2 linked regions of the Homo sapiens genome follow. The protein of the gene in region 1 purifies or fractionates together with the protein of each later gene. This does not show direct contact. Each region holds a gene or a part of one and is shown on either strand. Other genes may lie near its edges.

Region 1 (2,682 bases):
ATACATTTAGCTGGAAGGAATTATACCACCAGGCAAGAAATAGCCTTGGTGAAGAAAAAAACAGAACTCTTTGTCTCCCTAGTAAATAGGGTTTTTTTTTCATGATTTATATTCTGGTTTAAATACCATCTCTCTGTGACTCTCTTACTCTCTCAAGGTTAGAGGATCATTTTCTGTGCTGTTTCAGCACTTGTGCAAACTCTCTTATAAAGCTCCTCTAAACTATAGTTTAATTGAATGTATATGTTTACTTGAGAGATTAAATTTTCATTTACTCTTTTATTCATCTCCTACTAAAATGTTCCAGTTAACATGATCACTCCTTTTCTTTTTTAGTTTGAATAGACTATTTGACTCTATCACCCTGCTTTCCGTTAAGATGATTAGCATAGCACTGAATTCAACACATTTTTATTAATATTTCACCCCTTAGCTAGACTGTGGGCTTCTTTGTAACAAGGAGAATGTTTATATTTTTCTAATGGTTAATATCTAACATAAGGCCTAACTAATGTAGACTCATTCATCTAGTCATTTAATGAATATTTGTTTTATTTATACCTTTGAGTTGCATTTTGTCAGAGCCTGAAATACAAAGACAAATACATACCTAGTGCTTTCAAATACAACATGTTGTAGTATACAATGAACAGATGTGTAAACAAATAAACTTATTATAAGAGTGTTGTGATAATATAGTGTGTGTGACAACCAGGAAGAGGTAATGATAAGTTCTATTTTAAGATTTAGCTGAGTTGATAAAAATATTCAGAAATATGGGAAATGAAATAACTAACAAATGAAGCATGAATGAATGAATCAGTGAATCAATGATTTAATCAATCATTTCACCAATTGGTTGACATTTAACTGGGAAAGCCATACCATATACCAACTAGCTCCTGCACTGACTTCTGGTGTACGCAAGCCTTGAGGTAAATAAGACTTGTCTGTCCATTCTAATATATACATAAAAATATTTCTCAAAATTAATTCATAAACCTAATTTTAGCTTCAAAGACTGACTGGGCTGGAAAATGTTCTATAGGAAAGATTATCAACATAGACAAGACACTTAAGGACTCTTTCAAAGTTTAAGAATATATCCAAGATGAATATATTAGATAAAAGTTGTGTGAATTCATACCAACGACTTGATTAAAACGGGCAATGTAACTTTTGTCTTTCTGTGGCTGGCTTATTTCATTTAACATGCTAATTTCCAGCTTCATCCATGATGCTGCAAATTACAGAATTTCATCATTTTTTATGATGCCACATTTTCTTTATCCACTTCTCTGTTGATGGACACAGGTTGATTTCATGTCTTGGCTATTGTGAACAATGTTGCAACAAACATGGGAGTGCAGGTATCTGGTATCTCTTCAACATATTGTTTTTCTTTTTTTGGATATATATTGTTGTTCTCATTTATATGTGGGAGCTAAAAAGGTGGATCTCAAGGAGATAGAGAGTAGACTGGTGGTTACCAGATGCTGGGAATGGTGGGAGGAAGAGAGGATGAAAAGAGGTTAATTAATAGGTACTAAAATACAGTTAAAAAGAATAAGACATAGTGTTCAATAGTACAGTGGATAACTGTAGTTAACAATAATTTATTACGTGTTTCAACATGGCTCAAAGAGAATTTGAATGTTTCCAATAAAAAGAAAAGATAAATGTTTGAGGTGATGGATATTCTAATTACCTTGATTGAATTATTACACATTTTATGCATGTATCAAAATATCATTTGCACCTCCCAAATGTGTAAAACTATTATGTATCAATTTAAAAAATTTAGAAAAATAACACGTGATTTTTAAAAAAACACCATTCTACTTTTTACTTCTATGAATTGAACTAGTTTTAGCCATTCTGTAAGGTTTATATATATTTAAAACATTATGTTATATATGACATATTTAACTTTATGTGTCAATTTAAATAAATTGAGTTAAACTCATTTTTTAAAAACTGGCAATAGACAAAAATTAAGGGAAAGGCACTGAGATATACATCCAGAATGGGCTATAAATTTCCCCAAAACAGTTTCAGAAAACATAGACTGAGAGAGAAAATGTATGATACTACACATGAATAAATGTAAAATATCACACGTAAGTTTATTCTTTGTTATTTTTCATTTATCTTTCTTCCATCTGAATTAAGTTGCCTTGAATCAACCTGCACCCTTATCACCCTGGAAGAACTTTATGACACTCTTGCGTATCTGTTTTGTCTTTACTCCATAAACAATAGGGTTTAGAGTTGGGGGAAGAAGAAGATAAAGATTAGCCACAATGATGTGAAGAGAAGGGGGAATTGTGTGTCCCCCAAAACGGTGGGCAAAGAAAGTGAAGAATGCTGGAACATAGGTGATGATGATGGCAGATATATGGGCAGTGCAGGTGCTGAAAGCCTTCTGCCGAGCATCTGATGAAGAGAGGCTGATCGCTGCCTTGAGGATCAAAGTGTAAGACAAAGATATACAACAAATGTCAAACACTCCAATCAGGAGAGCAACCATTAGACCATAGATTACATTGACCTTGATGCTGGCACAAGATAGCTTTACTACAGACATGTGGTCGCAGTACGTATGGGAGATAATATTGCTTTGGCAGAAAGGCAAACGCTTAACCAAGAATGGGAAAGGAATCATCAGCAATACACCCCTCA
Region 2 (3,836 bases), on another chromosome or scaffold:
AAAAGGACTAATAATGAAATTTTCAGATATTAGTGACAATCTAAAGCAGGGAATATTTTTGGAACTGTGTGTTTCTTGTGTGGTGTCTCTCAAATTATACTCATGGCTGTACAGAGAAGAACATTTTATGACATCTGACATAATAGTGCTTTATTTTTAAGGGATCTGTGCTCTAAAAGAACAAGTACAGAATTATATGAGGAATATCAAATGGTCAGGAGATAAGAAACATCTTCATATATTTAGTTTTCCCTTTCTCTTTAGGTGTAGCTAGGGTGAAGACTAATTTTGTGTATATAGCTGAGGCTTATAGAGTGTCAATTTACAATGTTTCTTTAGTTAAATGTTTATTTATTAAAGACTCTGTTTCACCATACAAGTCCTCATTTGCTGTTGTATGTAGACACCTGTTAAATCCTGCTTGGAAGTTTTTACTGTGTAGTTTGCTATAAATCAGTCAGGCAGGCGAAGTAGAAGATTGGCAAAGCTTTTAACATAGACTGAGCCATTGGAAACAAGGCCTGAGCCACCAAAGCTAGAACAGGATGCACTCCCCACTGCTGCCTTGTGTGGTATGCCTTTAAAGTTTGGGTTCCAAATTAGCTGTTTTGGTTTCTGTCACAGGACAACCAATTGAAAACAGCTCAACCTTTCAGGATAGAGGATGGAGCTAACCTGTAGAGAACTAAATGATGGTTGTTATGCAAAGGTAGGATTTTTAACATCACATATGAATAGTCTTCGGAATATTTCCTGTTGTTTTCATCCAGATTTGTCATTACTGCTAGTTTTTGAGGTTAGGAAAAGAGAGCTGTCACCTTCATGGGGCTTAAAAAAATACAATGTGGAGATTTTCAGTCAGTTTTCAGTCAGAGGAAGGAATACCGGCTGTCCGTCTAGTTTGAATTCTTCATGATGGTATCCTTAGCCATGATCCATTGCTCTTGTTTTGATTATTTGTATTTTAAAGAGCAGATTGATGCAATGGGCTAGTGAGGGCATTCTACCCTATTTTGAGAGTTTGAGAGCTTCACTTTTTTAAACTAAGAATGATAGTGAGTTTAAAAAATATTAGTTGTATTTCAAAATTAACCTTAGGTGTGCTTGAAATTTTCTTATGTACTTCAGTAACAACATACTGGGATTGCAAATATTGTACTTTTGTATACTGTAAAGGGGGAGTTGAAAATACATTAAATAGTAAAAAAAAAAAAAAAAAGACTTGGAATCTAGAAATCCTAGTTTGTATAATGGATTGTAAGAACTTCAGAAGGATGAAGGAGTTGGGCCCTATGCTCTGTAAATATGTTGATTTTTTGCTATTTATTGATAGCTTATTATGTGCGGAATTTTACATAGTCTGGATCTTCATAGACTTCCTCCTTGAATCTCCTGTGTGCACTTGAACGTTTGTATTGCCTGATTTTACAGATGATGACATTGAAGTGCAGTGAGGTCTAGTAGTCTTTCCAAGGCCCTAAGTTTCACGTATGTCCCAGCAGATAAAGTTGCAAATTGATGTAACTGTCAGCCTGGGGGACATGGGAACCCACCAGGGCCCTTGAAGAAGGAGACCTTGGCCTTTGTACCTCCTATCAATGCTACCCCTCTCCAGCTTTCAGCCTAGAGTTTAAGAGCAAACAGGACATCTTATTCTGAATAAATGGTACTACTAATACAAAGTTATTTGAAAATATGTGTTCTTTCCAGAACAGGCATTTCTTCATTAGCAATTGATTTAGAGACTCTGATGGTAAGAATAAATGCATTTGTTTTTACCTAGTTTGTGAGAAAATATGCAGAGATGACTTGGGGGACCACATTTTCCAGATAGCCCTTTCTAGCAGAGTTTGTGAGGTCATGGAGAAAACTACTGTCACCTACGTGTCTCTGGCTTTATTAGTCAGTTAAAGCAAATATAGTTGCATTTACAGAAATACCCCCAAAATGAGTGACCCACTCAGAATGCTCTGCCACCTAGTGTTTACTGGGTGCCTGCTCTGTAGGATGCAACTGCGTGTCATTTCATTTAATCCTTATGAAGCACTATGGGGAGGTAATATGTTCCCGTAATACAACAGAAGACACTGAGGTTCAGGGTGGTAGACTCACTTGTCCAAGGTTATCAAGCTGCCAAGTGGCAGCACCAGAATGACCCCAGTTGATTTTTCTGAAGAGCCAGAGATCTTAACTCCAGTGGAATGAACCAGGGAGGGCCATGGTAGAGAAAAGTCGTGCTGGACCTTGAAGAATTGGAAGGAATATTTTAATTAGAGAGGCCGGGGTCTGGGGAAGAGAGAAGACAGAGAGGGAAGGGTGTCCTGGGGGTACTGATGGCTTAAAGAAGGGCACAGTGGAGGTGTAAAGTTCATGTAAGAGGCAGAGCCTGGCCTTCTCTGACTAGGGCACTGGATTTGGATAAGATGTGGTTCTCACCCTGGGCTCTGAGGCCCCCTACACCCACAGAGGTGGCCTGAGAGGCAGCCTCCCAGGAAAGGAAGACACTGTGAGAGTGAGACTCTCTCCCTGCATGCACCAGCAAAGGGGCTCAGCTTATGATACTTTAGAGTTTCAGGAAAAGCTTTAGTACAGTAGATTCTGTGCTTGAAAAAGGAGTTGCAGCTCACTAGGGCAGCAGAATGTCAGAAATAAACCCGAAAAGTTATTGATGTGCCTAATGGAATTTTGACTTCTGTCTGTAATGCAGACCAGGGGACATCTCTGACTAGTTTTTAGAGAGACACACAAAATAAAACCAGATTTTTCTTTCACCACCTAAAAGATTACACTAGCTGCAGTCTTTTAGGAGAGTAAGAGTTTGCAGGCAAGGTAAGCAAATAGGCATCTGTAGATTGGAACCTTTACACACTGCTAGCAGGAGGATTAATTGGTATCTCTATTATTTTAGTCAGGCTTCTCCAGAGAAAGAGAACCAATGTGTATATACATGGAGATTTATTATAAGAAATTGGCTCACATGATGTATTAGTCTATTCTCACACTGCTGTGAAGAAATACTTAAGACTGGGTAATTTATAAGGGAAAGAGGTTTAATTGACTCACAGTTCAGTATGGCTGGGGAGGCCTCAGGAAACGTACAATCATGGTGAAAAGGGGAGCAAACATGTCCTTCTTCACATGGCAGCAGGAAGGAGAAGTGCAGAGTGAGGTGGGGGAAAAGCCCCTTATAAAACCATCAGATTTTGTGAGAATTCACTCACTGTCACCAGAACAGCATGAAGGTGACTGGCCCCATGATTCAGCTACCTCCCACCGGGTCCTTCCCACAATACATGGGGATTATGGGAACTACAAGATGAGATTTGGGTGGGGAAACAGCCAAATTATATCATTTTGCCCCTGGCCCCTCTGAAATCTCATGCCCTCACATTTCAAAATACAACCATACCCTCCCAACAGTCCCCCAAAGTCTTAACTCTTTCCAGCATTAACTGAAAGTCCACAGCCCAAAGTCTCATCTGAGACAAGGCAAGTACCTTCCGCCTATGAGCCTGTAAAATCAAAAGCAAGTTAGTTACTTCCTAGATAAAAGAGGGGTACAGGCATTGGATAAATACACCAATTCTAAATGAGAGAAATTGGCCAAAACAAAGGGGCTACTAGCTCCATGCAAGTCTGAAATCCTGTAGGGCAGTCATTAAAACTTCAAGTTCCAAAAATGATCTCCTTTGACTCCATGTCCCACATCCTGGGCATGCTGATGCAAGAGGTGGGCACCCATGGTCTTGGGCAGCTCCACCCCTCTGGCTATGCAGGGTACAGCCTCCCCTCTTGGCTGCTTTCACAGGCTGGTGTTGAGTGTCTGTGGCTTCTCC

Evidence for each region.
Region 2: the proteins of OR52N5 (region 1) and CD226 purify together in Homo sapiens (affinity purification with mass spectrometry; one large-scale study listed by BioGRID and IntAct). This does not show direct contact.

Annotation. Positions count from the first base shown.
Region 1 is NC_000011.10:5,775,478-5,778,159, forward strand, and holds the end of OR52N5 (olfactory receptor 52N5), read right to left. Parts: coding exon 2,183-2,682; 3' UTR 688-2,182; downstream 1-687. UniProt on the Homo sapiens protein: Odorant receptor.
Region 2 is NC_000018.10:69,941,357-69,945,192, reverse strand, and holds part of CD226 (CD226 antigen isoform a precursor), read left to right. Parts: intron 1-3,836.